Linked DNA regions of Homo sapiens. The protein of the gene in region 6 purifies or fractionates together with the protein of the main gene of each other region. This does not show direct contact. Each region holds a gene or a part of one and is shown on either strand. Other genes may lie near its edges.

Region 1 (3,500 bases), on a different chromosome or scaffold from region 6:
TTGTATTTTTAGTAGAGACGGGGTTTCACCATGTTGGCCAGGCGGATCCAGAACTCCTGACCTCAAGTGATCCACCTGCCTCAGCCTTCTAAAGTGCTGGGATTACAGGTGTGAGCCACTGCACCCAGCCAACTTATTTCTCATTATATTATTTAACACCATTTCTTTTCATCAGGGTGAAGTGGTAAAGAGGGTACTTCCTGTATTCACTGTGTAACAAATGTTTAATAAATGCATGTAGAATACTTGTTTGGTGGTAGCTGTATAAAGGGTGTCATGGGTTTGCAAAATATTTGTATTAACATTGGGTTTTTCTGGTGTTTCTGCGCAGGATGTGATGGTGGCAGGTGGGATGGAGAGCATGTCCAATGTTCCATATGTAATGAACAGAGGATCAACACCATATGGTGGGGTAAAGCTTGAAGATTTGATTGTAAAAGACGGGCTAACTGATGTCTACAATAAAATTCATATGGTAAATGTGATTTTTAGTGGATAAATGCTATCTAATGTCCAATACTGTTTGATTTTTCTTACTCTATGTACTTTACAAACTGAACTGAAAGATGGGCTCTATAAATGTTGATTTTAGCCGTGTACTTTTGGAGAATATTTTTGTATGCCTATTGCATCGGCATGGCTCAGTCATTAAAGAAATTTTCCCACATTTAAATAGGGTAATTTCTGACGCTTAGCTGGCAACTGCTTGGCTAATTCAAGTATGTGAAGATAAGACATGAGTGGCTGGGTGCGGTGGCTCTGGCCTGTAATCCCAGCACTTTGGGAGGCCGAGGCAGGTGGATCACCTGGGGTCAGGAGTTTGAGACCGGCTTGGCCAATGTGGTGAGACCCTGTCTCTATTAAAAATACAAAAAAATTAGCCAGGCGTGGTGGTGGTGTCTGTAATCCCAGCTACTCAGGAGGCTGAGGCAGGAGAATTGCTTGAACCCGGGAGGTGGAGGTTGCATTGAGCCAAGATTGCACCACTGCACTCCAGCCTGGGTGACAAGAGTCAAACTCCGTCTCAAAAAAAGACATGAGTGAAAAGTGACCTGGTATAGAAAGAAATATATATGTGTGTGTGTATATATATATGTTATTATTATTTTTTTGAAATGGTGTCTTGCTCTGTTGCCCAGGCTGGAGTGCAGTGGCACAGTCTTAGCTCACTGCAGCCTCCGCCTCCTGGGCTCAAGCAATTCTCCTGCCTCAGGCTCCCGAGTAGCTGGGACTACAGGCACGTGCCCCCATGCCCGGCTAATTTTTAGTAGAGACGGGGTTTCACCATGTTGGCCAGGATGGTCTTGATCTCCTGACCTCATGATCTGCCTGCCTTGGCCCCCCAAAGTGCTGGGATTACAGGCATGAGCCACCACCTCCGGCCTAAGAAATATATTTTAAGAAACGTTAACTATTAAACACTATAAGTTAGGCAAAGTTAATAGATATTTTCTAAATTATGCAAAGTTAACTTTAAAATATTTCAACTTTTTATCAGGGCAGCTGTGCTGAGAATACAGCAAAGAAGCTGAATATTGCACGAAATGAACAGGACGCTTATGCTATTAATTCTTATACCAGAAGTAAAGCAGCATGGGAAGCTGGGAAATTTGGAAATGAAGTTATTCCTGTCACAGTTACAGTAAAAGGTAGAGATAATGTTCCAAAAAGGATGAATAGACTTTTCATGTTGCTGAATGTTTTATGCTTAAGTTTTAAATTAGGACATTATCTTGGTTCATTTCAACTGCTTATGGTTAATAAAAAGTGAAGAGTTGCCAGTTCAGAGAGAATATAAATCTACCCAACTTAATGTCAGATTTCAATCCATTTATAAGATCCCTGAGTATTACTTTAAATTTGAGAAATTTATTAGAACTTTTTCCTGTGACAGTCAATACGGTATTTTAAATTGAAAAGGGATTTACTAGAAGGTTACCGGGAGTGCCTCCAAGAACTGAAGGATGAACAGTAGCAACCATTCAGCTCTGGGAACTTCAGGGATTGGAACTGGGTGTTCACTACTACTAAGACATGCTCTCTTGGCTTCTCACACCTGCAGGCTTTTGTGCTTTATTCTCTCAGCCTTTCTAAAGTTGCTGCCTCTACCTCTAGGGTCACATATATAGGGTTCTCAAAAAGGAGAGACTTTCTCACCAGTTCCAGCAGAATAAATCCACAATGAAGACTCATTAACTTGCTTTAGGTTACAATTCTATTCCAGGAATGATTACTGTGCTCTAGGTGACAGAATACTAGAGCTTATCTAGTGTAGGTCAGACAGCTGCCTCTGGGGTCAGGAGAGTGGGGTCTGTGATCATAGAAGGGAGTTGAGGAAGAAAAGGGGACATGGAGGTGTAGAAGATTTAAATTTTGTGGCTGGGTGCAGTGGCTCACACCTGTAATCCCAACACTTTGGGAGGCCGAGGTGGGAGGATTGCTTGAGCCCAGGAGTTTGAGACCAGCCTGGGCAACGAAGTGAGACTTGGCCTCCACACAAAAAAATTAAAAATTAGCTGGGTATAGCAGCACACGCCTGTAGTCCCAGCTACTAGGGAATCCAAGGCAGGAGGATCAATTGAGCCCAGGAGTCCGAGGCTGCAGTGAGCTAGGTTTGTAGCATTGCACTCTATTGGGAGACTGTGCAAGACCATTTCAAACAAACAAAATTAGCTGGCTGTGGTGGCTCCCACCTGTAGTCCCAGCTACTTGGGAGGCTGAGGTGGGAGGATCACATGGGCCTGGAGAGGATGAGGTAAACTGTGATCATGCCAGCCTAAGCAGGAGAGGGAAACCCTGCCTCAAAAAAAAAAAAAAAAAAAAAAAAAATTGTGAAGCTACTTTGTAAGTTTCTCTTTTTAAGATGGTAACATAATAGAGGTTATAGTTAACAGATTCTAGATGAGTGTTTACTTGGGATGGTTTAAGTGAAGCAGGGATACAAAGGGAGGCACAGACTACTAGGCATCTTGTACAACAGTTGCTTGCTGAATGACTACTTGTTTTGAGCGATTTTACTTAAAATATTTTTATTTTAGGTCAACCAGATGTAGTGGTGAAAGAAGATGAAGAATATAAACGTGTTGATTTTAGCAAAGTTCCAAAGCTGAAGACAGTTTTCCAGAAAGAAAATGGTTAGTGTTAAGAAATGAAGCATAAGAAAAAATTGAGCCAGTATACCATATCTAGTTCTTAGAATTGCCTAAGGATTTTGAAAAATTCTAGAAAACATCTAGATGTTATTTAACATTTTCAGTATATCAGGCTCATGTAAAATTGTTTTGGTAGTTTATACCTTCAATATATAAATCCCAGGGAAGATATGTATAACATGACTATAGAATTCAGTTTTTCATATGTAGCAGTCTATGATAGGGTCTTCATTGGCATTGAAAAAAACAGATTTATTGATATAATTTATATACCATAATAACATTCTTCTATTTAAAGTGGTTTGGTAGTTTTTAACATTCATTTATATTTATCTCCAGGTGATTCTA
Region 2 (3,500 bases), about 160 Mb from region 6:
GATATCTGCGTTTCCTCCTTTCCTTGGTCCTGAGTTTATATTTTATTTACTTTATATTCTGGAAGGAGGCGTGATATAAGCAAGTTACTTTACCTTTTTTTCACAAACTCTTTGAACTAATGTCACTTTAGACTATGCTGTTTCCATCACGCAACTTTAGTGTGGTTTAGGATACGAACGTCTTAATATCACATAGAAAAATTTAATGATCTTTGCTCAGTTTTGTCTTTAGTGATCTTATTTAATTTTGTTATGGTTCATTCTGTTATCTTGAAAACCAACTTTGCTTGCCTCTCTTCGTTTTCAAAATTGTTCTCTCTTCTTTCCTAGTTCTTTTTGAATTTCCTCACTGGGTAAAAACCCTGAGGCTGAGGCCTTTGTCCCTTTCCCACTTGTCTGCCTTCTCAACAGCGTATCCCTTCTTTCAGCTTTGACTCTCATCTTTGTGTAGGTAATACTTCACCTCTTAATCCAAAGCTCTGTTCTTAAATTTGTCGCCACATATTCAATGACTTCAAATTTTAAGTCTGTACCCTGATATTCATTCTTTTCTCCAATTCAACCTATTTTGCGTACTGTTATGAGAGTAATTTTAGAGTTTTAATTTGAAAATAGCACTCTCTTCCAGAAAACCAGCAGGATCTGGAATGAGCATTATATTAAAGTCACAAACTATGTTATGGTTTATGCCAGCACTTGCCCATATGGACATTTTTATCATACTTTTCTCTGTTAAGCTGGTTATACTTATTTCCATAAAGTCCAGAAGTATGTATCCTATCTTAGTGAATGGTCCCTAGGAAGAGTCAGAGGGATAGAGGTAAGGGGCATTATTAAGTTTTTTTATTTGGACATTTATTTTTTAATGAGAAAGGAAAAGAGATACATAACAGAAATTGGGCTGGAAAAATACCAGCATATGTATGTTGTTAGAAAATAGATAATTCATACAGGATGCAATATTGAAAGTATTCTGTTAAAACAACAATGAGGTCACTTTCCCCTTCTCAGATTGGCAGATGTTAAATCAAGTAATTGGGAAAATAGGAACTCTAGCATTGCTAGTAGAAGTATAAATTATTAGTTCAGTTACTTTAGGCAGTTTGGTAGTTTCTGTTAAAAACTGCATAGCTGTGATGTGGTAGTTGGATGTTTGCATATCTACATGAAGTCGTGGCATTCAGAAATATTTGTAATTACACAAATAAGCATGCTTTAAAATATATTTATATTTAAAAGTAAAAATGCAAGCAAAAATGATTTCAGCTAGCTTTAGTTAGTATGGATTTATGTTTTGATAGTTCAGCTTTATGTTTTGATAGTTATGGACAATGAAGGGCAAAGAAAATCATCGAGGTGTATACTCTGAAAATTGAATTTTTTTTTTTTGAGATGGAGTCTCGCTCTGTCACACAGGCTGGAGTGCAGTGGTGTGATCTCGGTTCACTGCAACCTCTGCCTCCCGGGTTCAAGCCATTCTCCTGCCTCAGCCTCCCGAGTAGCTGGGATTACAGGCACCCGCCACCATGCGTGGCTAATTTTTGTTTTTAGTAGAGATGGGGTTTCACCATGTTGGCTGGGCTGGTCTTGAACTCCTGACCTCAGATGATCTGCCCGCTGTGGCCACCCAAAGTGCTGGGATTACAGGCGTGAGCCACCGCACCTGGTCTGAACATTGAATTTCAAAGTAAGATGAAATGCTTATGAATTTCAGCGAACATTGAATTGGGTAGATTGAACAATACTAGTAAGGAAGTTGAGTTAGTATTTGGCAGATATAAATATTAAGTTTTAGAACTGAATGACAAAACCTCTGTTAAAATGGGGGCACATGTTTTTATGATCCTTCAGTATTGCATTTGGTTTTAATTTTAAAAGCTAACATATTTACAATTCACTTAAGCTAAAATCAAGGTGGAAAGTATGTTTAATTTTTTCCTTTGGGCTTCTCAGGCAGCCCCTTAGTTATTTTTGATTTCTTCATTATTAAAAATTTTTTTCTAGGTGATGATTATCAGTGAGTTTTAGTTTTTTTTTTTAAATTTTATTTTTATTTATTTATTTATTTTTGAGGTGGAGTCTCACTCTGTCACCCAGGTTGGAGTGCAGTGGTGTGATCTCAGCTCAATGCAACCTCTGCCTCCTGGGTTCAAGTCGTTCTCCTGCCTCAGCCCCCCATGTAGCTGGGACTTACAGGCACGTGCCACCACACCTGGCTAATTTTTGTATTTTTAGTAAGATGGGAATTTACCATGTCAGCCAGGATGGTCTCGACCTCCTGACCTTGTGATACGCCTGCTTCGGCCTCCCAAATTGCTGGGATTACAGGCGTGAGCCACTGCACCCAGCCCAGTTTTGTTTTTTTAAAAGCAAGTGAAAAAGGTACCAATAACTATATGTCATAACATTTTTGTGACCTAATATTTATATTGAAATGTGCATCAGTCATTGATAACTTTGTCCATGATCTGTAATTAACAAACTCATGCTGTTAATTTATAGTTTTATTAATATTTGGATGAAATTCACTGAAAGAACAAGAATTAGATTCTGAGGGGTTTAGTCTCCTGGACTTTTAGCTGCATATTTCCAGACCTTACTCTTTTATAGAGAAGTCTACCTACCTCAAAGTCAGCTAATCCATGAAATGACTACCAAATAGAATTCAGCCTTTTTTATGAGGCAATATGTAGGCCAGCTAAAAGGGAGGGGGGGCACTATTTTAGTCCAAAGATAAATGTCACTTTGAAAGAAATTTGCTGAAGATATTTGTGGGTTTCTTTGAGTTTTAAAAAGTTATTTAAAAGAAATCAGGCTGGGCGTGGTGGCTCATGCCCGTAATCCCAGCACTTTGGGAGGCCAAAGCAGGTGGATCAGTTGAGGTCAGGAGCTTGAGACCAGCCTGGCCAACATGGTGAAACACTGTCTCTACTAAAAATACAAAAATTAGCCAGGAGTGGTGGCGGGCACCTGTAATCCCAGCTACTCGGGAGGCTGAGGCAGGAGAATCGCTTGAACCCAGGAGGTGGAGGTTGCAGTGAGCCGAGATCATGCCGCTGCACTCCAGCCTGGGTGACAGAGCGAGACTCTTGTCTCAAAAAAAAAAAAAAAAAGAAAGTAATAGTAAAAGGCTGTACTACTTCCTTCTTGTGATATTTGAAATGAAGAAAAATTATGACCATATAAGCTGAAAGCCTAATTATAGAATTTGTGTGAGGGAGCTCAATCATGTTAAATCCTATATAAATTAAGGTTATATTTTATAGTTGCCTGTCTGTGCCTTTTCACCTTTAAGTCATTTGCTAGTAAGAGAAATGCTTAAGAAAGGTGAGTAAACAGATGTATTTATAAAAATAGTTATTAATTACTGATATCTCTCAGTGAGGTACATAGCTTTCACATAGAGATACTGTTAGTACAGTTTTACCCTGAAATCTACTCAGGTGCAAAATTGCTTTGGTTATGAAACACATTACTTGTGAGTCATCACTGCACTTAGT
Region 3 (3,500 bases), on a different chromosome or scaffold from region 6:
TTAAGTGTGTTGAATTTTATATGCTTCTCCTTGGTTTTACCTAGTTTATTTCATTGTTTAGAATTTTGTGTGGTTTGGGAATCCTTAAACTCATGAAGTGAAATAGAAAGCTGAGATGCTGGGCACGTACGGAACGTTCCAGCAGTGTGGGTGAGAAAGGCTGGACGTGGCCTGTCTGGTGCGCTGCCTCATGACTGAAGGTGCAGCAGGCGTACCTGGCTGGGTACTGGGGAGGTGTTTTAAATCCTGTCTTGGCCACGTTTGGATGGGACAGTTGGGCACTCACGTCCTGTGCCTTGCCTTTCTCCAGCTCGGCCGCCTGTCAGTGCAATGCTGCCCCATGTGGTGCTCACCTTCCGGCGCCTGGGCTGCGCCTTGGCGTCCTGCCGGCTGGCGCCTGCGAGACACAGAGGAAGTGGTCTTCTGCACACAGCCCCAGTGGCCCGCTCGGACAGGAGCGCCCCGGTGTTCACCCGTGCCCTGGCCTTTGGGGACAGAATCGCCCTGGTTGACCAGCACGGCCGCCACACGTACAGGGAGCTTTATTCCCGCAGCCTTCGCCTGTCCCAGGAGATCTGCAGGCTCTGCGGGTGTGTCGGCGGGGACCTCCGGGAGGAGAGGGTCTCCTTCCTATGCGCTAACGATGCCTCCTACGTCGTGGCCCAGTGGGCGTCATGGATGAGTGGCGGTGTGGCAGTCCCCCTCTACAGGAAGCATCCCGCGGCCCAGCTGGAGTATGTCATCTGCGACTCCCAGAGCTCTGTGGTCCTTGCCAGCCAGGAGTACCTGGAGCTCCTGAGCCCGGTGGTCAGGAAGCTGGGGGTCCCGCTGCTGCCGCTCACACCAGCCATCTACACTGGAGCAGTAGAGGAACCGGCAGAGGTCCCGGTCCCAGAGCAGGGATGGAGGAACAAGGGCGCCATGATCATCTACACCAGTGGGACCACGGGGAGGCCCAAGGGCGTGCTGAGCACGCACCAAAACATCAGGGCTGTGGTGAGTGCCGCCTGGCGCCGTGATGGTTTCGGTGACCGCACAGCACTCCGGGTGGGCTCCGGGCCAGAAGCACATCTTTTCATTCGCTTTTCTGTGGAGTCATTCACAGTTGTCACCATCCTGCAGACCCGTGTGAGATACAGGGACGCAGGCCCTCGGGGTGTGGCCGCTGGCCTCACTGGCCACGCAGGACGGCTCTGGGAGCGTCCAGGTGTAGAGGGATTGAGGGGCCGCCGAGTGACCCTGCCAGGACCATGCGGCATGAGGTCAGAAGGGACCACTCACTGCCTGTGATGCTGAGGGGCTTTTCGGAGGCCAGCCACGTGTTAGGATGCGTGGTCAGGACCCCACATACACCCGGGTCTTACTCGTTTTTTGTGTGTCCTGTGACCTCAGTCACATCTTCACAGAACTCTCCAACCACATCACTTACCTGGCATTTGTACAGTGTCATAACGTCTCCTATGCACTTGAAGCAATCAAGTAAAAATGAAAACCAAAAGCCAGGAAGGGGAAGGCAGGAAGTGTACCCCACGGAGTCGTGGGCTGACGAGGCGCCATGAGCACACAGCAGGCTGGGCCCTGGGTGGCCTGCGCCGTCACTCCTGGAAGCGGCGCGCCTGTCGGGAGGGACGGGCTCTGGACTCCTCTGTCCTTGCTGAGGGGAGTGACATGCACATGTGCTTCTCCCTGGAGCCTGTGCAGGCAGCAGGCAGTGTCCTCCGTGAGATTGGACAGAGGATTCAGTGGGCCGTGCCTCACGCTGCTTCTCAGTAAGAGCTGAGGGTGTGCTCTGGAGCCTGGCCTGGGTTCTGTCCCGGCTGAGCAGGTGACGATAATTCACGAATCGGCAGAGCTCTGTGTGGGCAGTGCTGTCACCTGAGCCAGTGGTTGGGCTGGGAGTCGATTCCAGCCTGAATGGCGCTGGGTCCCTGAGTCCCAGGCTTGGGCAGGGGCGGAGCTCTGTCGACCTGGTGTCTGCAGAGCCACTCCCCGACCTTCTAAATTCCCTAAAGCCTCTGGCTGTGTGTGGCGCTGTCCTCTGTCCCCAGGGTAAGTGAGTGACCCAGCAGATCTGCTGTGGTTTTGTCGTCATCTTGAGAGGCTGCTAAAGGGGAGCAACAAAGAGCCAGCCTTCTCCTTCCCCTTCCTCAGTGGGGAGGCCCAGAGCTCCTTTCCGTGAGCCCGAGGTCTGTGTGTGCTGTTGCGGGCCACAGTCTTGCTCTTGCTCTCAGCTGTGCTCTCGTCCCCTGCAGGTGACCGGGCTGGTCCACAAGTGGGCATGGACCAAAGACGACGTGATCCTCCACGTGCTCCCGCTGCACCACGTCCATGGTGTGGTCAACGCGCTGCTCTGTCCTCTCTGGGTGGGAGCCACCTGTGTGATGATGCCTGAGTTCAGCCCTCAGCAGGTGAGTTGGGGTCAGGGCTCTCGGTTGCACCCTCAGACTAGGCGCCTTTCCCCTGTCGGGGCCAGGGCTCTCAGCCGCGCCCTCAGCCTAAGCGCCTTTCGCTGGTTGGGGTCAGGGCTCTCGGCCGCGCCCTCAGACTAGGCATCTTTTCCTGGTGTGCAGTCGCCCCTATCCACAGGGGACGTGCCAATGCCGAGACCCTGGGTAGCATGGAACCCTGTACCTACGATGCTTTTTGCTATACATACGTACCTATGATAAAGCTTAATTTATAAGTTAGGCACAGTAAGAGGTTAACAATAACAGAACAGTTATAACCATGTACTGTAATCAAGTTATGTGAAAGTGCTCTCTCTCTTCAAAATACCTTCCGGTACTGTGCTCGTCTGTTGTGAGACTGCAGTGGGCCACGCGTCATTGAAACCGTGAATAGTGAGACTGGATGAGCGGAGGTGACTGTACAGGCCCTGCTGCCCGCGAGCTCCTGCGGCTGCGGCGAATGCTCACGCGCTTGGTTTAAAATAATGCGAGTTTGTTCTTACATGCTTGGAGGCCAGGATTCTGAGACGAGTCTTGCGGAGCTGATGCTGGGTGTGGTAGGGCTGCTCCGTCAGGAGGCTCCAGGGCAAAGTCCGTTCCTGCCTCTTGCAGCTCTGGAGGCCGCCTGTGCCCTTGGCTCCAGCTGCTTCACGTCCAGCTCTGCTTCTGCAGGCACACGGCCTTCTCTCCGTAGTCAGGGCTCCCTCGGCTTCCCTTTGTGCAGCCTATGCGGATATTCCAAGATCATCTCCCATCTTGAGGTCCTTCGCTTCATCCACCTGCAGTTCCCACCACTGCGAGAGGTGACACATTCGGGGTGTAGGGCGTAGGGCGTGACCCTTTGAGCTATGATGTGGCCACTGTGGCAGCCCTCGGTTACTCCAGAGTACTGGCCCAGCTGGAGAGCTGCTTGCTGCGGAGGGTTACTTTGGAGTATTGGCCCAGCTGAAGGGCTGCTGTGGAGTCTCTGTCTCCCCTCTCTGCATGGCTTCCTCTGTAGCGTCTCCCTTGGAGCAGGCAGGGAGGGAAGGACGCGGTGCTGGTCACACAGAG
Region 4 (3,500 bases), about 140 Mb from region 6:
GAAGGTGGTTGTCCATTAGAAGGAGCATGCACCCTCCAGGTGAACAGTCCAACTGGCACTGAGGCCACACCTACATTTCCACTGATCATCACACCTGAACTTTGTCTTTTGTTAAAGAGGAACACGAAGCATTTCTTATGCCTAGTCAAATTTGCTGATTGTTATTTGTCCTGCCTGTATGGGCTGCTACAGTCACATATATCACATGTTCTAAAGTAGTAGAAACCTAAAAGTTAACCAATTTCCCCCAAGTGACCTAATAATAGGTTTAAGAATAGGGTCAAAATAGTGAACTTACTCATAAATAGCTTTAGCATCCTCAGCACTTTTGTCCTTAAAATCAAGAAGCTCCTGAAGACTCTGGATATACCTAAAATGCAGATCAATAGGATAAGTTTGTTCTTTTATATTCTGAAAGTTCAATATCATGAAAATTAGCTCAAAAGCTATTTTTAGCATTTTATAATTTTTAATTTAGAATACTGCTATAAATTATGGTTGAAGTATAATTTTTACACCCATGCACATTCAAGCAAAGTGCTGGGAATGAATGGTAGAAGGTGCACATTTTCTCCTAAAAGCAAAGGTCAAATTTAAGAATTTTAAGATTTTCCGAGTTCTACATTCTAAAATGGCTTTTAATTTTTTTTTAATTTACCACTGTACATTACAGTATATATACTGATTATGCTGAGATCTGTCACCAGTAACTATGTGATCTTGGGCAAATGACTTAATTTGTCTTATTATCAGTAAAAGGAGGACAGCCTCTCTTGCTCTAAGACTGTATCTTAAATATCTGTGCTTTAAAACCTTAATTTTACATATTTATGTCCAACTAACAAGTATTTATTGAAAGCCTATAATCTACATGGTTCTTTTAAACTGAACAAAAAACACAAAAGTCATAAAAATGTACATTTTAAATTTATCTAACAATTCGAAGTATCAAAGCATCTGTTAAGGAATGAGCAAAATAGAGAAGGCCAAATGATTTTCTGATGGTCTTGCAGGCAAGTACAATGGCACTGCGGGGCCAGAGCTAAAAATAACTTGCTACCACTGAATTACTTTCTTCGACAGTGTAAGGGATCTGCTCCACTTGGCTGTAAGCACTTTATCTGCAACTGTCCTAACTTAGCAGGCATCTAGGAGCAATGGAAGTGCTTTAAAAACCTGTAATTCCATCTGTTGGTTTGGAAAGCTGTTTCTGACAAGCAATATGTCTTACTGCATTCCAAAGTTAAGGGATTCTGATAGCAGCTGCTGCTTTGCTTTAACCCTTAATTTCCTCTTAATTGGCAAGAACAACTACGCTCTCCATCCAAGAGATATTTGAGTACCTACAACAGGCACCGATCAGACCTCATGACTGATAAGCTTCAAAAAGCAGCATATTCTACTTCTAATGAAGAATTTTTTAAAAACAGGAAAAATCTTCCATGGAATATTATATTTTCTCCATTATATCCCATCATAATTACTAAACAAATGCTTCCCATTTAATCCACACTTATAACTATTCCATACTTGGACTAGATAGCATCTGATTATCATATATATAGCAGTCATATTTTGCTTTTTTAAATTGCGATTAGATCAACTTCTCCCATACGCTATAATGCTTACAAAAAGAAAACTTGAATCTCCATGAATCATAACTGGGAAATGCCCTGCAGCTAAACCTTTTCCATTTAAGACTTAACTCTGGGCAACTCATTTGTTTGAAGCATACAGTGCTTAAAAGAACAACACTTTTAAATCAGTAACATTAATGAAGGCTGTATATAGGTGGCTCCATGAGTGTATACCCTTAACATCTCTACTTATCTTTGGGAAGAGATCACACTTTTTCTACACAATTCCAAAAACTTCTAATTGTTTTAAAACAGAAAAATAAACATTTTAACTTTTGTAATTTATAAAAAGATACCCTTCAATAAACACAGTTTATTAAAAATACATATATCCTTTCATATATTTCATCATTCTGACTATAGCACGGTATAGCAGAGATGGACAAATGGGGGTTTGAATCCCAACTCCACTATCAATGGTACTGTCTTACGCAAAAGATTTAACCTTTATGTGCCTCAGCATCCTCATCTGTACAGAGTTAACCTGCCAGGTGCGGTGGCTCATGTCTGTAATACCAACACTTTGTGAAGCCAAGGTGAGAGGACTGCTTGAGCCCAGGAGTTCACAACCTGCCTGGGCAAAAAAGTGAGACCCCCATCTCTACAAAAAAATAAAAGAATTGGTCAGGTATGGTGGCGCATGGCTGTGGTCCCAGCTGCTCGGGAGGCAGCTGCCTTAGCAGGAGAATCTCTTGACCCCAGGAGGTCAAGACTGCAGTGAGCCATGATCACACTACTGCACTCTAGCCTGGGTGATGGAGACCCTGTCTCTAAAAAGAAAATAAATTAATTTAAAAAATAATAAACAGGCTAGACACAATGGCTCATGCCCATAATCCCTGCACTTTGAGAGGCCCAGGTGGGCAAATACCTTGACCTCCGGAGTTTGAGGCCAGCGTAGGCAACATGGAAAAACCCCATCTCTGCTAAAAAATACAAAAATTAGCTGGGTGTGGCATGCACTTGTGGTCCCAGCTACTCAGGAGGCCGAGGTGGGAGGATCACCTGAGCCAGGGAGGTGGAGGTTGCAGTGAGCTGAGCTGTGATCACCACTGCACTCCAACCTGGGTGACAGAGTAAGAACCTGTCTCAAAAAAATAAGTAGGCCAGGAGTGGTGGCTCATGCCTGTAATCCCAGCACTTTGGGAAGCCAAGGTGGGAGGATCACCTGAGGTCAGGAGCTTGAGACCAGCCTGGCCAACATGGTGAAACCTCTATTTCTACTAAAAATACAAAAATTAGCCAGGCATGGTGGCAGGTGCCTGTAATCCCAGCTACTCTGGAGGCTGAGGCAGGAGAATCACTTGAACCCAGGAGGCAGAGGTTGCAGTGAGCCAAGATCATGCCATTGCACTCCAGCCTGGGCAACAGAGCAAGATTCCATTTCAAAAACAAAAAGTAAATAAAAATAATAACAATGAATAAAATGGAGAGAATCATACCCACTGTGCAAGGTTGTTGAAGGGATTAAAGGCAATATACATAAATACCCAGTCATCAACAAATTGCAGACATTTTTTCTTATAATATCCTTGAAGATATACTAACATAAATCCTAAATTTAGCATCTGTATTTCAGTGCAGTTTTGACTGGCTTTCTCAAAATCAAGAAGTTGTGGAGTCCACGATTCAGGGCACAAGCCCAAATACATTGCCCCCACCTGCCCCCAGCCAAAAAAAGAATACTGCTACTACCTTAAGACTCTGGTCGGGCACGGTGGCTCACGTCTGTAATCCCAGCACTTTGGGAGGCCAAGGTGGGTGGATCACGAGTTCAGGAGACCGAGATCATCCTGGCCAACATGGTGAAACCCTGTCTCTACTAAAAATACAAAAATTAGCTGGGCGTGGTGGCACGTGCCT
Region 5 (3,500 bases), on a different chromosome or scaffold from region 6:
ATGGGGAGGGCAGGATGAGGCAATCTGAGATAAAGACCACAGGACACGGTAAAATGATCACATTTTCCAAATAAAAAGCCCCTTTCCCAATTCAAAGAAAATGTATGTTTGTAAAGGACTGTAGTAAATAAAAGCCCTCCTCATGGCTCACCAGTGACGTGTTGGTAACGAGTACGTCCTAGCATTGAATGCATGGCATGTCCCATTTCATGGAAAAGATTTTCCATCATGCTAGGAGTTAGCAAAGTTGGAGAACTCCTTGAGGAACGGGGAAGATTCAGCATAAGAACTACAACTGGGAGTTGATAGTCTCCATCTTCCTTTAGTCTGCCTCCACGGATAGTGAAATGGCAATCCTTTAAGAATCAGAAAACATAAAAGGAAAAGAAAGTATTTGGTAATGTGAAGAGTAAAACAGTCTTAATGAATATAAAATTTCACCAAAAATGTGTGAGTGCAAACTTTAACTTAATTATATTCTTATTCTATCTATTTACATATATACACCTTTTCTTGACATTTTTTATTCTGCTAAAATTTTAATTTTTTAAAACATCAAGAACACATTCAGTTTCTATGGATTAACTCATTACTTTGGTCCCAAAACATGCATTGAAATGATGCTGTGCCAGAAGCTGGAAACAAAGTCAGCAAAGAACTTACGAAGGGACACTAACATTTATTCTGAGTCCCTACTATGTGTCAGATAATGAACTAGTAGGTACTTTCCATGTCTCTTGGCTATTTTTTTTTCTTTTTTTAAGATAGGGTCTTGCTCTGTTGCCCAGGCTGGAGTGCAGTGTTGTGATCGCAGTTCACTGCAGCCTGGACCTCCTGGGCTCAAGCCATCCTCCTGCTTTGGCCTACTGATTGGCTGGGACTACAGGTGTGCTCCACCACACCCAGCTAAATTTTTAGATTTTTTTTTGTACAGATGGAGTCTTACTATGTTGCCAGGGCTGGTCTTGAACTCCTGGACTGAAGTGATCTGCCAGCCTCAGCCTCCTAAAGTTCTGGGATTACAGGCATGAGCCACCGCGCCCAGCCTCTCTTGACTTTTATCACTTGAACGAGATGGGATCTAAACTAGTGTAAAGCAAGGGATCCGGAGCCAGAATAACTTACTCTGAAACAGGCACTACACTGAGACTCACATACACTGTATCACTTATTCTCCACAACAACCCTATGTAGCAGGTATCTCACTTTTCAGATGATAAAACTAAAACTAGTCTTAGGATTATTAAATAACATGTCCAAGGACACCTAGCTAGAACTGCCACACCTTGGATCTGAACCCAGGCTGACTATTAGGAGCCAGGGCTCCTAATCACTAAAGTTGAGTCTCCACCACCCACCCATTTAAGCAAAGAGGAAGAACACTGGCCTCAGAGTCTGGTGACCTGCACCCTGTTCCTACCTTTCACACCTACTAGACAAATCATCTCGGAAAATAATTTGCTTCTGCAAGCCTCATCTCTAAAATGCTTCCTTGTCAAATCCCACAGTGGCTGTCCAGAATTCATAAGCTCACATCTGTTAAAATCTGTGCTTTGGAAATTGTGAATCACTATTCAAACATAAGGTACATTATTTCTGTTATAACTTATAACCTAAACTCTTGACATTTCCCATCAAGCTACATGAAACTGCTAAAGCTGACTGGCTGTCAAAGTCGGCCAATGCTAAAGAAAAGGAGATGAGCTGCCTCAAGTCTTCCACATAAGGAGCTACTTGGTGGTTGGTAAGGTTTCCACATGGAGTATCTTCCGCAGTTTTAGAATAGGTTCATTGTCGAGTATGGAAAAGAGTTAAAAGTTGGGGATCTGCTCAGGATGTATGCCTTCAAGTCCTAGCACTTCTGGCCAAGTAGCTTAACCTCTATGGCTTCAGTTTCCTCATAATGTGAGTAACTAGTCAAAAGGGTGAGGCGAACATTAAAAGGCTGATGTGTATAACGGGCTCAGTGCACTGTTTGGCACAAATAAGGATTCATAAAATGTCAGTTGTCATTGTTACTATAATTAATACCATGACCCAGATAAAAGTGACAAATATAGACTGATGTAATTATTTCCATAAACTTTTTAATTTTAAAATTCTATCTTAATTTCAAATGTATATATTTGGTAACCATCATTAGTAACTTTTAAATGTCATGGAATTTAAAAAATGATACAAAGTTCACATCAATACAAATGAAATGCCGATCGGTTCTAGAGAGACCAGTTTATAAAGAAAGGATCACCTGATGTGGTTTGTCTGCTCGCTGAAAAAAATCACAGTAAATGTACCCCAACAATCCTTCAGATTCATGAACAACAGCCTAGAAAAAAAAATTTAAATTTGGTGGTAAATGAGGCCATCTGATTCTCTAAAATCCCTAACACAAGAATCTGTATATTAAACATCCATAGCCACACATATAGACATTTTAATTACATTCTACACCCCACATTATCTCGAGATAGATTCTCTTTTCCCCGCATCCTCTTCTGCTCCATCTCTTGAATGATTTTGGTTTTGGAATTCTGTGTCCAGGACAGGAAATCCTCCTCATGAGGGCCTTTTGTCCTGACTGCCTATCCTCTACAATACCTTTACTAACCACCCACAAGAGCTGGGAAGAAGTGCTGGCTGGACAATTTTAGGAGCAAATTATTTTTCCTTCAAATCCTGGAATGTCGTGATATACGCCCAAGCAAATTATAACCCTTGAATTTGAAAACACCACAATGCAGCTCCCAGCTTGAGTTAAAAATCAGCAATATTACTATCTATCCCCTCTCCAAGAGACATAGCTTATAGGAGAGACTCAATCACTACTCTCCATCTTGCCTTCTTTGTTCTTTCAGAATTTAATGATTCCATCAAAGAGAACCCCGATTTTGTGCTTTAAAACTACCTGCAAGTATATATTTATTGTTCATCAAACATCTGTTAAGCACCTACTTGGTGCCAGGAACTCTTCAAGACACTGAGGATACAGAAGTGAATGCAACTGACAACAGTGCTGGACCCCGGTGGAGTGCACATTCTGCAGTTCTGGGGAAACCCTTCATCACCCGCATTTTGTCCTCTCAGTCTCCTCTTATAAATTTTTCTTTTTATTATATCTCAGCATTTTATCAATCTCTATCTTTTTTGGAAGTTTGTAATACAGATAGTGAAGTAAATCAATGCAGTGATGAACGTCCTCCCACCCTGACTCTCCTTTCAATCCCACCACCACACCTACTCTCCACTCACAAGACGTGGCCGAGAGACAATGAGACTGTTTACATTTCTTAAAATATAGTGAAGAAAGCAGTGTGGTAAGCATGCTAGCAAAAATCAAACAACAAAACAATACAAAGCCTTAGTGACACACACAGGTCAACAAAGCCTCAAATCCTATGAGGAAAAATTTAAAATATTCATGCCTCATATAAAGTGGGCCTTCACAGGAGAAAGATGATTGCTAGGTTTGAAGTTATTATCAAAGAAGTTAAATAAATCAG
Region 6 (3,989 bases):
CAGCTACTCGAGAGGCTGAGGTGGGAGGGTTGCTTGAGTTCAGGAGGTGGAAGTTGCAGCGAGGTGACATTGTGCCACTGTACTCCAGCCTGGTCAACAGAGCGAGACCCTGTCTCAAAAAAAAAAAAAGGAAATTCACATTGTCTCAAATGTTTAAATTTTTCATGTTGTAATGGCGTGTTTTACACTTGGCAATATTGATAATACAGGCATACAGGAATCTTTCTTTGGTTATATTCATATATACATACATAGCCAAATCAATATTTCCATATTAATATGCAAAGTACAAGACATATCATTATGATTTTTCAGTATCATCAAGTACTATGACAAATTGTTTTTTCTTCCCTGAGACAGGATCTCACTCTTGCCCAGGGTGGAGTATGATGGCACAGTCATAGGTCACTACAGCCTCGAACTCCTAGGCTCCAGTGACCCTCCCACCTCAGCTTCCTGAATAGCTGGTACTACGGGCTTGTGCCACTGCATCCAGCTACTTTTTTTTTTTTTCAATAGAGTCAGAGTCTCGCTATGTTGCCTGGGCTGTTCTCAAACTCGGCCTCAAATGGATCCTCTTGCCTCAGCCTCCCAAAGTGTTGGGATTACAGGCAGAAGCCACATTGCCCAACTGTATAATAATTAACATACCCTTTTGGGAGTGGTAAAATGATAGTTAATAATACTACCTTCTAAAAAATGAAATACTTTGATTGCTGTCCAAAAGTGTGTCATTTCACCACAATAAGAAAACTTATGCTTTATTTAAACGGAATCAGACTGATCCAGTTCTCTTTTTCCCCCACACAGGTAGCTTTGGATATGTTAAATCCTCATGTTACTTTGCCTGTTTTTTACCCACATCTTAAGCATGGTGGTGTATGTGCTGTATATGTAGTAAAGTGAGTAATATAACTGTTTTTCTTTGTAATGTAACTTTTAAGTGCACTTTTGCTTAAGTATCAAACTAAATTTTTTTTTTTTTTTTTTTTTTTTTGAGACAGAAAAAAACTCTGTCACCCAGGTTGGAGTGTAGTGGTATGATCTCAGCTCACTGCAACCTCCACCTCCCCTGTTCAAGCAATTATCCTGCCTCAGCCTCCCAAGTAGCTGGGGTTACAGGCGCCCGCCACCACGCCCGGCTGATTTTTTCTATTTTTGGTAGAGAAGGGGTTTCACCATGTTGGCCAGGCTGGTCTTGAACTCCTGACTTCAGGTGATCTGCTCACCTGGTCTCCCAAGGTGCTGGGCTTACAGGCTTGAGCCACCACGCCCAGCCAAAATATTCATTTTGTAACTGAATAAAGTGTATATGGCATCTTATACAACTGTTTTAAAATGACAAGTCCCAAGTTCATTTATATTACTGTATATTTATTTAGTGTTTTTTTTTTTTAAACTTTTTTCGTTTTTTTTTTTTTTTTTTTTTTTGAGACAGAGTCTCGCTTTGTCACCCAGGCTGGGGTGCAGTGTCATGATCTCAGCTCGCTGCAACCTCCGCCTCCTGGGTTCAAGTGATTCTCCTGCCTCAGCCTCCTGAGTAGCTGGGATTACAGGTATGCGCCACCACACCCGGCTAATTTTTGTATTTTAGTGGAGACAGGGTTTCACCATGTTGGCCAGGCTGGTCTGGAACTCCTGACCTCAAGTGATCTGCCCCCCTCAGCCTCCCAAAGTGCTGGGATTACAGGCGTGACCCACGCCCAACCCTATATTACTGTTTAAATCATTTTTTACATAAATAGTAATATAAGATGCATATTTTCTTCTGACAATCTGGAAGAAATGTTTTAAAAGTATAATGTGAACAGTAATGTTAAATTATGGTCTCTGTGTTTGTTTACTTAGAATTTTGTGAAGGTACTTTTTATGCCTCCTAACTTGCATATTTAAACCCTCTCCTGCCTTAATTTAACTATGGTATTTAAATGTGGGCAAGAGGTATAGGGAACTTAAATAAATATAATGTTATTATTTTAGTAGAAATGTAAATTTTTCACTTTTCTGAAAGCATCACACAGGTTATTGAACTTTTAGATGGAATTCGCACCTGTGAACTTGCTCTTTCATGTGAAAAGATAAGCGAGGTCATTGTCAGAGATTGGTTGGTTTGCCTTGCAAAACAGAAAAATGGAATTTTAGCTCAAAAAGTAGAATCTAAAATCAACACAGATGTACAACTAGATTCTCAAGAGAAAATTGGAGTTAAAGGTGAGCTGTTTCAAGAGGATGACCATGGTGAGCTTCAGTTTTACTTTATGCATGCAGTAATGAATGGAGAATGAGTTCCTGAGTATACTGACCAATAGATTATAAAAATATTCCTCAGCAATTTTCTATAGAAAAGTGTGATATTTATTCTGTTAAGATGTATAAGGCACAGAATAATGACTTTTCCTGCCTTTTACTTAAAACTCTGATACCTTTGAAGAATTGAGCTTTTTATAATATTCATATTTTACTTGTCACAAGGAGCTTGGTTTGTGAAATAATTTAAATGTATTAAGGATGTTTTATATTTAGATCACTGATTATTAATGGGACCTGATAGGCAAATAGCTAATATTCCAAAAAGCAACTTCTAAGATGCTGCTGGAATTCTTGAAAGAACTGAGTTTAGGTCTTTGTCATATATACACATTATTTAGGCCATGAACAAGTTTTCAAGTATCAGTTGATTTATGATATAGGCTTATCCATTTGGTTATAAAATCATATGTTTATTACATAATCATTGACAAATAGTTTCTGTATAATAACTGGCAGAGTAGCTCTAAAACATATGCAAGGAAATAAATAAAGAAAAAACTTACAATAAAGAGAGTAACTCATATTTTAACAGTTTTGTGAAAAAAATAGAAAATATTTTATGTAGCTTATAGTACATATATTTTTTTACAACAGAAGAATCGCATTCTGATTTTCCATATGGATCATTTCCCTATGTTGCTAGACCAGTACACTGGCAACCTGGTCATACAGGTGAGTAATGTTTTCAGAACATATTAAATGGTGTTTTTTCTTTTAATTAATATAATGACTTTATGTTTTTCTTCTCTTAAATTAGCTTTTCTTGTCAAGTTGAGGAAGGTCAAACCACAACTTAACTGAGTACTCCAGATGACAGTAACTGACTTGAAGATGGAAAAATATCAAAATAGAACTTTATATTGAAAATCACTGCTTCCATAGATTGGCATTTTTAGCTATTACTATGACTTATATAACTTATACATATAATTTTGAAAATAACAACTAAAAGATGTATAACATAGCAAAACTGCTTAAACATCCCATTTTGACACTTGTCTTGCAGTTAGTTTGACATTTTGTAGTTAATGATTCCAAATTGGTTTAGTTGGGCCATCTCATTCTTCACTTCCTGTAAACCACTCCATAGATTTGTCTTTCTTCAAGAAATTAGTTTTCTTTCCTTTATTTGATTGATGGTCATTGACTACTGAAATAAAATATGCATTTTAAGATAAATTTTATGTATCTGTCCATTTTAAATACATCTTATAATGGCTTGTATATGTCTTAAAAAATAATAAGGAAATCTGGGCTACAGTAAATAATGGGGGGAAACTTAAGAATGATATAATCACCTTAAAAATTGTAACAAAAGATGTAACAGGCTCTTGAATCTCTTTTATCCCCTCAGAATCTTTTTAACCAGCTTGAAAGAACATTAGAATTATTCAGTGTTACTACACAAATTAAATGTTTGGGGGCTGGGCACAGTGGCTCACGCCTTTGGGAGGCCAAGGCAGGCAGATCACCTGAGGTCAGGAGTTCGAGACTAGTCTGGCCAACATGGCAAAACCTTGTCTCTACTAAAAATACAAAAATTAGCTGGTTGTGGTGGCGGGCACCTGTAATCCCAGCTACTTGGGAAGCTGAGGCAGGAGAATCGCTTAAACCTGGAAGGCGAAGGTTGCAGTGAGCTGCGACTGTGCCACTGCACTCCAGCCTGGGTGACAGGGCGA
Region 7 (3,500 bases), on a different chromosome or scaffold from region 6:
GAACTGCTGCAGGGATGGGTGGGAAGTTGAGTGGGTGGGATTTGGGTGCCTGTTTTCCCTATCAGCAGTCTCAGTCAGAGCCGCCTGCTTCTGTCTGTTTTACATATTTGGTTTCTGCACTAGATTTCTTTGAATAACAGGTTCCACTTTTTTAGATAATTTACAAACTGTTTATTGCAATTGAACTCTCCTCCCCTAAGGCATTGACCTGATTTGATAACATCAGGATCTTTCTCCCACGCCCCTGCAATCTCTCCTGTGTGGCAGGTTTTCTGTGGTTGTACCTGAAGGCCAATTAGTTGCCAGGCAGTCTTATCTGGCCTGCCCACTGGTACCAGAATGATCTCTAACACAGCCCATTGCACAAGACCCAAGTGTCAGTGAGCCTCTGTGTTCAGTGAAGGAGACTGAGCTTTGATATAAAAGGCTGCAGAGTGATGGAGCCATCAGCTTGTTTTTTTTTTTTTTTCTTGTTTTTTTTTTCCTTGAGACAGTGTCTTACTCTGTTGCCCACCCTGGAGTGCAGTGGTGCAATCACAGCTCACTGCAGCCTCAACCTCCCCAGGCTCAGGGGATCCTCCCACCTCAGCCTCCTGAGTAGCTGGAACTACAGGCGTGTGCAACCACGCCCAGGCTGGTTTTGAACTCCTGGGCTTTAAGCAATCCCCCTGCGTCAGCTTCCCAAAGGACTAGGATTACAGGCAGTAGCCACTGCAACCAGCTAAGCTTGTTTTTTTCTTTTTCTTTTCTTTTTTTTTTATGGAGTCTCACTCTGTCACCTAGGCTGGAGTGCAATGGCGCAATCTCGGCTCACTGCAACCTCCACCTCCCGGGTTCAAGCAATTCTCCTGCCTCAGCCTCCTGAGTAGCTGGGATTACAGGCGCGTGCTACCAAGCCCGTGTAATTTTTGTATTTTTAGTAGAAACGGGGTTTCACCATGTTGGTCAGGCTGGTCTCAAACTCCTGACCTCGTGATCCGCCCGCCTCGGCCTCCCAAAGTGCTGGGATTACAGGCGTGAGCCACCGTGCCTGGCCTCCAACCTTTTTTTTTTTCTATACCACCTTCAGGGTGGTTTTGGAATGGATGGAGGCAGGGATTCCTTTAAGTTGGCTGTCACTTTTAGTTAGGGACTCACCTATAAGCCTGTGGTCCTGGGCCCAGAGAGGAGAAAGCAGTGCGAGCATATTGATAGAGTAGAGAAATCTGTTGGCTGATTAGCTGTACAAGGTCTGAGGAGAAGGTTGAGGTCTCCCCAAGACTTCTCTAGAACACTTGGTGAGAGGCGCCATGAGGACAGGTGATGCTTGGGCTTATAGCTCTGACTCAGGACATCACTGCTCAACAGCCTGAAGCCCACATCCAAAGCTCATGTCATGCTGGCAATTGAAGGGGTAGCAGAGCCCAAAAGTCCAGAGGGGCTCAGCACAGGGAGCAGATGTCTGTGAGCAGGAGAGACAGCGGCTGTAGGGATCGATGAGACTTGGTAAGCATGATGTGCTCTTGTCAGCATAGCATCTTTGAGCTCACACAATAATTGATGTAGAATTGTCCATTTCAGTAAGGAGTTTCCACATCCACTATCTTCCACGATTCTCACAAGGGCCTTGAGTAAATATTACCTGCATGTTATGGGTGAGAAAGGGGTAGTTTAGAGAGCTGAAGGGATTTGGTGAAGGCCACATAATGAGTAAGCCTGAAATCAAGGACCAGACCCCCAGGCTTCTAAATGTTAGTCTTGGGCTCCTTGTTTCATGGGACTATTATCATCCCTTGTACTGAGAAGGAAAACTGATGAAAATCGGGAAGAACCTATTTGAACAGGGGAGGGAGATGGATGTGGGTGGTGGAGCCTGCACATAGTTTCTGTATCTCAGGAACCTTGTGAGGTTTGCTTTCCAGTTCCTTCAGTACGTCATGTCCCGCTGGCCAGGGTGGAGTGGAGCACATGTTTTTCCTTCCCTTTTAACTGATATTTCCGTGATGGGAGTGTGCTAAAAATTAAATTTTTTAGAAAATATTTACTATTTTTAGAAAGAAGTTTTCCCATTTCCAGAAGTTAGCCAAGATGAACTTAATGAAATCAATCAGTTCTTGGGACCCGTGGAAAAATTCTTCACTGAAGAGGGTATGTATGGTTTTCTTTACCATTGCCGATTTCCATTGTAAGGGCTATTTGGTTGATATTTATATTAGAAGTGACATACATAGGAGAAGTCTTCTTGAGGGAGAAATGGTTTCCACTCATAATATTTTGCTTTAGGTTTCATCCCTATTGCCATTTAATTAAAAAACATCCAGTTAAATGCTTCTCATTGTATTTGTGGTTCAGGAGCACTTTAAACATTTCCATACTGTTCCAGGTCAACACTTCCATAAAGCTATAATAAAAATGAATAACTAAAAAAATTAGATGGCAAAAAGCCAAGGCCACACACCATACAAGCCCATGGAGCATGTGTTGGTTGTTGTGGCAGTGTACAGTTGCTCTTAGTGTTTCTAAAGGTTGAGTTTCAATTTCTGTACTTTGGTAATTGTAAACAAAGAGTGATTTGTGGACCAGCCACAGTTTGGCACCTGCATGGTGAGGCAGCATTTGACCTCAGGTCCCTCTCTCAGAGCTGTTGGCCGGTCCTCCAGCCAGGGCCTTGGTGGAGAGTTCAGTGATGGTGGATGGACAGCAGGTCTTCCCTAATAGTAGGATCCTGGAGAGCTTTTGTTTATATGAATTTTATCTATCAATATTTGCCATCTTAGGGGTTATTTTATTTTTATTTTACTTTATTTTTTTGAGAAAGGGCCTAGCTCTGTTGCTCAGACTGGAGTGTGGTGGTACCATCTCATCTCACCACCACCTCCATCTTTCAGGCTCAAACAGTCCCCCAACTTCAGCCTCCTGAGTTGCTGGAACTACAGGTGCGCACCCCCATGCCCAGCTAATTTTTTTGTATTTTTCATAGAGACAGGTTCTCACTATATTGCCCAGGCTGGTCTCTACTCCTAGGCTCAAGTGATCCTCCCACCTTGGCCTCCCAAAGGGCTGGGATTACAGGTGTGAGCCACCATGCCTAGCCCCTCTTAGAAATTAAAACTGAGAAATTTAAAATATACTGTGGGGCTGGGTGCAGTGGCTCACGCCTGTAATCCCAGCACTTTGGGAGGCCAACGGGGACAGATCACCTGAGGTCTGGAGTTCAAGACCAGCGTAGCCAACATGGTGAAACCCTGTCTCTACTAAAAATACAAAAATTGGCCGGGCATGGTGGCGGGTGCCTGTAATCCCGGCTATTCAGGAGGCTGAAGCAGGCGAATTGCTTGAACCCAGGAGGCAGAGATTGTAGTGAGCCAACATTGCACCACTGCACTCCAGCCTGGGTGACAGAGTGTGACTTTGTCTAAAAAAAAAAAATAAAATATACTGTGTTCATTTGTTTAAAAATAATAAATCCATTACATGTTAACATAATATTTTTAATGAAAAATATTTTGTTTTTGTTTTTC

Evidence for each region.
Region 1: the proteins of TRMT61B (region 6) and ACAT1 purify together in Homo sapiens (co-immunoprecipitation; one large-scale study listed by IntAct). This does not show direct contact.
Region 2: the proteins of TRMT61B (region 6) and GLS purify together in Homo sapiens (affinity purification with mass spectrometry; 2 studies listed by BioGRID and IntAct, with this or other methods). This does not show direct contact.
Region 3: the proteins of TRMT61B (region 6) and ACSF3 purify together in Homo sapiens (affinity purification with mass spectrometry; 2 studies listed by BioGRID and IntAct, with this or other methods). This does not show direct contact.
Region 4: the proteins of TRMT61B (region 6) and PDK1 purify together in Homo sapiens (affinity purification with mass spectrometry; 2 studies listed by BioGRID and IntAct, with this or other methods). This does not show direct contact.
Region 5: the proteins of TRMT61B (region 6) and MIPEP purify together in Homo sapiens (co-immunoprecipitation; 2 studies listed by BioGRID and IntAct, with this or other methods). This does not show direct contact.
Region 7: the proteins of TRMT61B (region 6) and ACAD9 purify together in Homo sapiens (co-immunoprecipitation; 3 studies listed by BioGRID and IntAct, with this or other methods). This does not show direct contact.

What each region holds. Positions count from the first base shown.
Region 1 is NC_000011.10:108,138,567-108,142,066, forward strand, and holds part of ACAT1 (acetyl-CoA acetyltransferase, mitochondrial isoform b precursor), read left to right. Parts: intron 1-331; coding exon 332-475; intron 476-1,498; coding exon 1,499-1,649; intron 1,650-3,038; coding exon 3,039-3,134; intron 3,135-3,500. UniProt on the Homo sapiens protein: This is one of the enzymes that catalyzes the last step of the mitochondrial beta-oxidation pathway, an aerobic process breaking down fatty acids into acetyl-CoA.
Region 2 is NC_000002.12:190,883,821-190,887,320, forward strand, and holds part of GLS (glutaminase kidney isoform, mitochondrial isoform 1 precursor), read left to right. Parts: intron 1-3,500. UniProt on the Homo sapiens protein: Catalyzes the first reaction in the primary pathway for the renal catabolism of glutamine. Plays a role in maintaining acid-base homeostasis. Regulates the levels of the neurotransmitter glutamate, the main excitatory neurotransmitter in the brain.
Region 3 is NC_000016.10:89,100,352-89,103,851, forward strand, and holds part of ACSF3 (malonate--CoA ligase ACSF3, mitochondrial isoform 1 precursor), read left to right. Parts: intron 1-310; 5' UTR 311-330; coding exon 331-996; intron 997-2,252; coding exon 2,253-2,408; intron 2,409-3,500. UniProt on the Homo sapiens protein: Catalyzes the initial reaction in intramitochondrial fatty acid synthesis, by activating malonate and methylmalonate, but not acetate, into their respective CoA thioester. May have some preference toward very-long-chain substrates.
Region 4 is NC_000002.12:172,559,090-172,562,589, reverse strand, and holds part of PDK1 ([Pyruvate dehydrogenase (acetyl-transferring)] kinase isozyme 1, mitochondrial isoform 2 precursor), read right to left. Parts: intron 371-3,500; coding exon 299-370; intron 1-298. UniProt on the Homo sapiens protein: Kinase that plays a key role in regulation of glucose and fatty acid metabolism and homeostasis via phosphorylation of the pyruvate dehydrogenase subunits PDHA1 and PDHA2.
Region 5 is NC_000013.11:23,837,401-23,840,900, forward strand, and holds part of MIPEP (mitochondrial intermediate peptidase), read right to left. Parts: intron 2,327-3,500; coding exon 2,249-2,326; intron 357-2,248; coding exon 152-356; intron 1-151. UniProt on the Homo sapiens protein: Cleaves proteins, imported into the mitochondrion, to their mature size.
Region 6 is NC_000002.12:28,849,321-28,853,309, reverse strand, and holds the end of TRMT61B (tRNA (adenine(58)-N(1))-methyltransferase, mitochondrial precursor), read left to right. Parts: intron 1-810; coding exon 811-902; intron 903-2,011; coding exon 2,012-2,238; intron 2,239-2,699; exon of another isoform or gene 2,700-2,904; coding exon 2,905-2,982; exon of another isoform or gene 2,983-3,067; coding exon 3,068-3,111; 3' UTR 3,112-3,368; coding exon of another isoform or gene 3,369-3,460; 3' UTR 3,461-3,489; downstream 3,490-3,989. Other genes in the region: SPDYA (speedy protein A), read right to left, coding at 3,369-3,460.
Region 7 is NC_000003.12:128,882,620-128,886,119, forward strand, and holds part of ACAD9 (complex I assembly factor ACAD9, mitochondrial), read left to right. Parts: intron 1-2,033; coding exon 2,034-2,127; intron 2,128-3,500. UniProt on the Homo sapiens protein: As part of the MCIA complex, primarily participates in the assembly of the mitochondrial complex I and therefore plays a role in oxidative phosphorylation.